Linked DNA regions of Homo sapiens. The protein of the gene in region 1 purifies or fractionates together with the protein of each later gene. This does not show direct contact. Each region holds a gene or a part of one and is shown in the gene's direction. Other genes may lie near its edges.

What was found.
Region 2: the proteins of STARD7 (region 1) and ZNF346 purify together in Homo sapiens (affinity purification with mass spectrometry; one large-scale study listed by BioGRID and IntAct). This does not show direct contact.

What each region holds. Positions count from the first base shown.
Region 1 is NC_000002.12:96,195,215-96,199,033, reverse strand, and holds part of STARD7 (stAR-related lipid transfer protein 7, mitochondrial isoform 1 precursor), read left to right. Parts: intron 1-3,484; coding exon 3,485-3,693; intron 3,694-3,819. UniProt on the Homo sapiens protein: May play a protective role in mucosal tissues by preventing exaggerated allergic responses.
Region 2 is NC_000005.10:177,025,451-177,029,269, forward strand, and holds part of ZNF346 (zinc finger protein 346), read left to right. Parts: intron 1-3,819.

The sequences.
Region 1 (3,819 bases):
GATTGTTAGAATAAAATTGAGAGTCTAGAAATAAACCTTTACATTTTTGGTCAGTTTTCAACAAGGATGCCAGGATAGTTCACTGGGGAAGGAATAGGCTTTTCGACAAATGACACTGGGTCACCTGGAGAAGCAGATGCAAAAGAATGAGTTTAGACTCCTACCTCATTATCATACACAAACATTAACTTGAAATGGGGTAAAGACCTAATGTAAGCTAAAATTCTAAAACTCTTAGAAGAAAATATAGGCATAAGTTCTTATGACCTTGGATTAGGCAGTGGTTTCTTGGCTATAACACCAAAAACAAGCAATCAAAGAAAAAATAAACATCAAAATTAAAAACTTTTATGCATGAAAGGATACTATCAAGACTAGTATAAGCACATGAAAAGGTTAGGGAAATACCAGTCAAGACGCAATGAGATACCATTTCACACCCACTAAGTTGGCTGGAATAACAAAGATGGACAATAACAAGTGGGGCAATTGGAACCAAGGATGTGGAGCAGTTAGAATCCTCAAACATTGCTGATGTGAATATAAAATAGTGTAATTGTTTGGAAAACATTTTGGCAGTTGCTTAAAAAGTTAAGCATAGTTACCATGATCCATCAAATCTGCTCCTAGGAATCTACCCAAGAGAATTGAAAACATGTCTATATGAAGATTTGTACACAAATGTCCATAGCAGTATTCTTTTTTTTTTTTTTGAGACAGTTTTGTCTTTTCGCCCAGGCTGGAGTGAAGTGGTGCAATCTTGGCTCACTGCAACCTCCACCTCCTGGGTTCAAGCAATTCTCCTGTCTCAGCCTCCCAAGTAGTTGGGATTCCAGGCTCCTGCCATCACACCTGGCTAATTTTTGTATTTTTAGTAGAAATGGGGTTTTGCCATGTTGGCCAGGCTGGGTCTCGAACTCAACCTCAGAGTGATCCACCCACCTTGGCCTCCCGAAGTGCTAGGATTATAGGCATGAGTCACTACGTCCGGCCAGCAGTATTATAATAGCAGTAATATAATATAGTGCTATTATAATAGCACTATAATAAAATAGTGGAAACAAATTTTATTTGATGAATGGATAAACAAAATGCGATCTATCCATACAATGGAATATTATTCAGCTATAAAAAGGAATAAAGTACAGCATGGTTGAACTTGAAAGTATGCTAAGTGAAAGAAGCTCAACACAAAAGCTACATATCATATGATTCCATTTACTTGAAATGTCCAGAATTGGCAACTCCATAGAGACAGAAAGTAGATTAGTGGCTGCCTAGGACTGGGAGGAGGCAGGAATGGGAAGTGACTAATGATAGATAGAGGTTTCTTTTGGGGGTGATAAAAATGTTCTGGAATTAGGGGTGATGGTTGCACAACCTTGTGAATATACTAACAAGTACAGAATTGTACACTGTAAAAGAATGAATCTTATGGTATGTGAATTTATCAATTTAAAAACAAAGGGGAAAAATACATACATACTTATAATAAGACAACCCAATAAAAAACGGACAAAAGATATCAATTGACATTTTAAAACCATAAACCTTCATAGTTAACATTTGAGGGCTACTTACGTGCCAGATAACAAACACTTTATTTTATTTTATTTTTTATTTATTTTAGAGATGGAGTCTCACTCTGTTGCCCAGGCTGGAGTGCAATGGTGCGATCTTGGCTCACTGCACCCTCAGCCTCCTGGGTTCAAGTGATTCTTCTGCCTCAGCCTCCCGAGTAGCTGGGATTACAGGCGTCCACCACCATGCCCAGCTAATTTTTGTATTTTTAGTAGAGATGGAGTTTCACCATGTTTCCCAGGCCGGTCTCGAACTCCTGACCTCAGGTGATCCGCCCACCTCGGCCTCCCAAAGTCTGGGATTACAGGCGTGAGCCGTTGTGCTTGGCTTTATTTTATTTTATTTTATTTTATTTTATTTTATTTTATTTTATTTTATTTTATTTTGAGACGGAGTTTCGCTCTTGTTGCCCAGGCTAGAGTGCAATGGCACGATCTTGGCTCCCTGCAACCTCCGCCTCCCGTGTTCAAGCGATTCTCTTGCCTCAGTCTCCCGAGTAGCTGGGATTACAGGTATGTGCCACCGTGCCCAGCTAATTTTGTATTTTTAGTAGAGACAGGGTTTCTCCACGTTGGTTAGGCTGGTCTCAAACTCCTGACCTCAGGTGATCGCCTGCCTCAGCCTCCCAAAGTATTGGGATTACAGGCGTGAGCCACTGCGCCTAGCCTATTTTATTTTTTAAGAGACAGTGTAGCTGGGCACGGTGGTTTACGCCTGTAATCCCAGAACTTTGGGAGGCCGAGGCGGGCAGATCATGAGGTCAGGAGATTGAGACCGTCCTGGGTAACACGGTGAAACCCTGTCTCTGCTAAAAATACAAAAAATCAGCCGGGCATGATAGCGCGTGCCTGTAGTCCCAGCTACTGGGGAGGCTGAGGCAGGAGAAATACTTGAACCCAGGAGGCGGAAGTTGCAGTGAGCCCAGATCATGGCACTCTATTCTAGCCTGGGTGACAGAGTGAGACTCTGTTTCAAAAAAACAAACAAAAAAAAGAGACAGAGTCTTACTGTATTGCCCAGACTGGAGTACAGTGGCAGAATTGTAGCTCACTACAGCCTCCAACTCCTGGGCTCAAGTGATGTTCCCATCTCAGCCTATAGCTTGGAGTACAGGCATGTGCCACTATGCCTGGCTAATTTTTTAAATTTTTTCTTAGAGGTAGGGTCTCACTGTGTTTCCCAGGTTAGTCTTGAACCTGGCCTCAAGGAGTCCTCCTGCCTTGGCCTCCCAAAGTGCTGGGACTACAGGAGTGAGCCTCTGTGCCTGGCCATAGATATTAAGCACTTGACACTTACTTTTTTTTCGTTGTTTTTTGTTTTTTGTTTTTTTTTTTTTTTTGAGACAAGAGTCTCACTCTGTCGCCCAGGCTAGAGTGCAGTGGCGTGATCTCGGCTTACTGCAACCTCTGCCTCCCAGGTTCAAGTCATTCTCCTGCCTCAGCCTCCTGAGTAGCTGGGATTACAGTTGCGCGCCACCATGCCCGGTTAATTTTTGTGTTTGTAGTAGAGACAGGGTTTCACCATGTTGATCAGGCTGGTTTTGAGCTCCTGACCTCGTGATCCACCCTCTTCTGCCTCCCAGTGTTGAGATTACAGTCGTGAGCCACCACGCCCTGCAGCACTTGACACTTTGTAATCTTTATAGCCAACCTCGAGATAGGTACTATTATTATTTCCATTTTATAGATTTAGAAATAGGAACTGGTTAAATAATAATCTAGTTAGTGAGTGTTGGACTAAGATTCAAACTCAGGAACTCAGTTTTTATTGACTATACTGTGTCCTGTTTATATACTACATACTGTGGTTTACTGTATAACCTTCTTGCACAGACCTTTGTGTGGACACTTCATTTCACAGGGCTGACTAACCACCTCACCATGGCTCTTTTTCCCCTTTACAGATCTATTAATGAGATGAAGCGGTTGGAAGAAATGTCAAATATGTTTCAGAGCTCTGGAGTCCAGCACCACCCTCCAGAACCAAAAGCCCAAACAGAAGGGAATGAAGATTCAGAGGGCAAAGAGCAACGTTGGGAAATGGTGATGGATAAGAAACACTTTAAGCTGTGGCGGCGCCCAATTACAGGCACCCACCTTTACCAGTACCGAGGTGAGCCCAGTGTGGCTATCTTTTGGGTTCCATAGTTGCACAGGTGCATGGGATTTCTGTTCTTCATACTTCTCTAAACTGTTCTGGTTGTTTCTCAGAAAATTTGCCGTAGTTTTTTGTTTATTG
Region 2 (3,819 bases), on another chromosome or scaffold:
CTCTGACATTTTGGAGAACTGCCAAACTGTTTTCCAAAATGGCTTCACCTTTTATATTTCTGCCATCAGTGTATGAGGGTTTCGCTTTTTCTATAACCTTGACAACACTTGTCTTTTTTGATTATAGGCATTCTAGTGGGCATGTAGTGATATCTCATTGTGGTTTCCTAAAGACTGATAATACTGAGCAACTTTTCAGGGGCTGACTACCCATTTGTAGATCTTTGGTGAAATATCTATTCACATCATTTGCCTATTTTGTAATTGGGCTGTTTGTCTTCTACTGAGTTGTAAGAGTTATCTGTGTATTCTGGGTACAAGTCTTTTATTATAGATATGATTTCCAGGTATTTCCCCCTGACTGTGACTTGTTTTTTCATTTTCTAAACAGTGCCTTTTGAAGCACAAAAGTTTTAAGTTTTGATGAGATTAAATTTATCATTTTTTATCCTATGTATTGTGCTTTAGTGTCATATCTAAGAACTCTTTATCTTAACCCAAGATTTGAGAAATTTTCTCTTGTAGATCTTCCTTATTATTATTATTATTTTTTTTTTTGAGATGCAGTCTCACCCTGTCACCCAGGCTGGAGTGCAGTGGCATGATCTCAGCTCACTGCAACCTTCGTCTCCCTGGTTCTCCTGGAGGAGGTCAAGCGATTCTCCTGCCTCAGCGTCCCGAGTAGCTGGGATTACAGGTGTTCACCACCACATCTGGCTAATTTTTGTATTTTTAGTAGAGATGGGGTTTCACCACGTTGGCCAGGCTGGTCTCAAACTCCTGACCTCAAGTGATCTGCCCCCTTCAGCCTCCCAAAGTGCTGGCATTACACGCGTGAGCTACCATGCCCAGCCCCTTCCTCATCTTGTTTCTGAAGGAGTTTGTGAAGGATGGATTGGTAATTTTTTTTTTTTTTTTTTTTTTTTTGAGACAGAATCCCACTCTATCGCCCAGGCTAGAGTGTGGTGGCACGATCTCAGCTCACTGCAGCCTCCCTGTCCCAGATTTAAGTGATTCTCCCGCCTCAGCCTCCTGAGTAGCTGGGATTACAGGAGGGTGCTACCACACCCAGCTAATTTTTTTGTATTTTTAGTAGAGACAGAGTTTCACCATGTTGGCCAGACTGGTCTTGAACTCCTGACCTCAGGTGATCCACCAGCCTTGGCCTCCCGAAGTGTTGGGATTACAGGTGTGAGCCACCACACTCAGTTGGTAATATTTCTTTTTACAGTATTTTATAGAAGTGTTGACCTGCAAGGAAGAGGCTAACACACAAAATATGATTTGAAGAGTTTACTTGATTTTTAAAGGCAAAAAAATGTGGACAGGGAGTGGGACTCATACAAAGTTGTTTATCAAGAATTCTCATTGATTTACAGAAATAACATTGGTTAGTGATTGGCTGTACATTAAGCTGTAGGATGTAGGATATAGCGTCAGGTAGGGCATTATTAGGTTAATCCTTACCCACTTGTGGCAATAGCAAGCAGTTTTGATAGATGAATCTTAGCTCAAAAAGGGAGAATAGGAAGTGATTGCTATCTCATTTTAATATCTCTCTGGGCCCTGATCATTTAAAAAAACTTGGATTCTTTAGATAAAAGTTATCTTCTTTTTTTTCAGACAGAGACTCACTCTTCCGCCCAGACTGGAGTGCAGTGGTGTGATCTCGGCTCACTGCAACCTTTGCCTCCCGGGTTCAAGCGATTCTCGTGCCTCAGCCTCTCAGGTAGCTGGGATTACAGGCGCCTGCCAGCACACCCAGCTAATTTTTGTATTTTTCGTAGAGACGGAGTTTCACCATGTTGGTCAGGCTGGTCTCAAACTCCTGACCTCAGGTGATCCGCCTCAGCCTCCCAAAGTGCTGGGATTACAGGGGTGAGCCATCACGCCCAGCCGATAAAAGTTATTTTCTGACCTGCCTGGGCAACGTGGAGAAACCCTGTAAATTTTTGTAAAATTTGTGTTTTTGTAAAAATACAAACATTAGCCAGGTGTGGTGGCTCACATCTGTAATCCCAGCTACTCAGGTGGCTGAGGCACGAGAATCGCTTGAACCCAGGAGGCTAAGGTTGCAGTGAGCCGAGATTGTGCCACTGCACTCCAGTCTAGGCAACACAGTTGAGACTTTGTCTCAAAAAAAAAAAAAAAAAAAAGTTATCACCAGTGAAGCTACCTGGGCCTAAGCTTTTCTTTCTTCCTTTCCTTTTTTTTTTTTTAAATTCTCTATTTATTTATTTAGAGACAGGGTCTCTGTTGCCCAGGCTAGAGTGCAGTGGCACAATCATAGCTCACTGCAGCCTCAGACTCCTTCAAACTCAAAGCTAGGACTGCAAGGGCATACCACCATGCCCAGCTAATTTTTGTGTTTTTTTAAATAGAGGGTCTTGCTCTGTTGCCCAGGCTGGTCTGAAACTCCTGGCCTCTAGTGATCCTCCTGCCTCAGCCTCCCAAAGGGTTAGGATTATAGGCAAGCATGCGCCATGGCACCCAGCTGGCTTCGGCTTTTCTTTGTGGAAAGGTATTTGATTATTCATTTTCTTTACTTGTTTTAAGTGTACACAGAATATTTTGTTTCTCCTTGTGTCACTTTTTTTTTTTTTTTTTTTTTTTTTTTTTTTTGAGACGGGGTCTTGCCAGGCTGGAGTGCAGTAATGATCACTGCAGCCTTCGCCTCCCAGGTTCAAGCAATTCTCCTGCCCCAGCCTCCCGAGTAGCTGGGATTACAGGCATGTGTCACCATGCCCGGCTAACTTTTTTGTATTTTTAGTAGAGACGGGGTTTCACTGTGTTGGCCAGGCTGGTCTTGAACTCCTCGAACTCTAAAGTGATCTGTCCGCCTCTGCTTTCCCAAAGCACTGGGATTACAGATGTGAGGTCCCTGATTATTTTCTTGGTTAGTCTAGCTAAGAATTTGTCATTTTCTTGATCTTTTCTAGTTTCTAAGGTAAGATCTTATGTTGCTGATTTGAGTGATTTGAGATCCTTCTTTTCTGATGTAGATGTTTAAAATTATAAATTTCTCTCTTAAGCACTTGTGACGTTTTATATATATATATATATATATATATTTCCCTCCATAGTTCCTGGCTCACAGCTTCTATAACCCTTGTACTTTCCTCAGTGACTAAAGCAGTAAGAGTATCTTCTGTTAAAATATTTGGCCTTTTGTCCTTGCTTCCTGAAACACCTCTGGAACTGCTCCAGAGCAAGAAAGGTGAAAAACAGACTTTTGTTATTTATAACAAGCCCCTTTCTTTTTTTTTTTTTTTTTTTTTTTTTTTTATGAGATGGAGTCTCGCTCTGTTGCCCAGGCTGGAGTGCAGTGGTGCGATCTCGGCTCACTGCAAGCTCCGCCTCCCAGGTTCATGCCATTCTCCTGCCCCAGCCTCCCAAGTAGCTGGGACTATAGGCGCCCACCACCACACCTGGCTAATTTTTTGTATTTTTAGTAGAGACGGGGTTTCACCATGTTAGCCAGGCTGATCTCGATTTCCTGACCTCGTAATCTGCCCTCCTCGGCCTCCCAAAGTGCTGGGATTACAGGCGTGAGCCACCGCACCCGGCCATATAACAAGCCCCTTTCAGCCACACCTTGGTACATGTTAATAGGGTGATTTTTGAGAAGTCCCTAGATTACCACATTCTGGTTGGCTGGTTGCCATAGGAACCAACCATGTGCTCAGAGGCTTGGAAGTTACAGCCCCCCATCTTGAGAGGGTAGAAAGGAGCTGAAGGTTGAATTGATCACCGATAGCCAGTGATTTAATCAACCATGCCTATGTAATGAAGCCTTCATAACAACCCAAAGACCTCAGT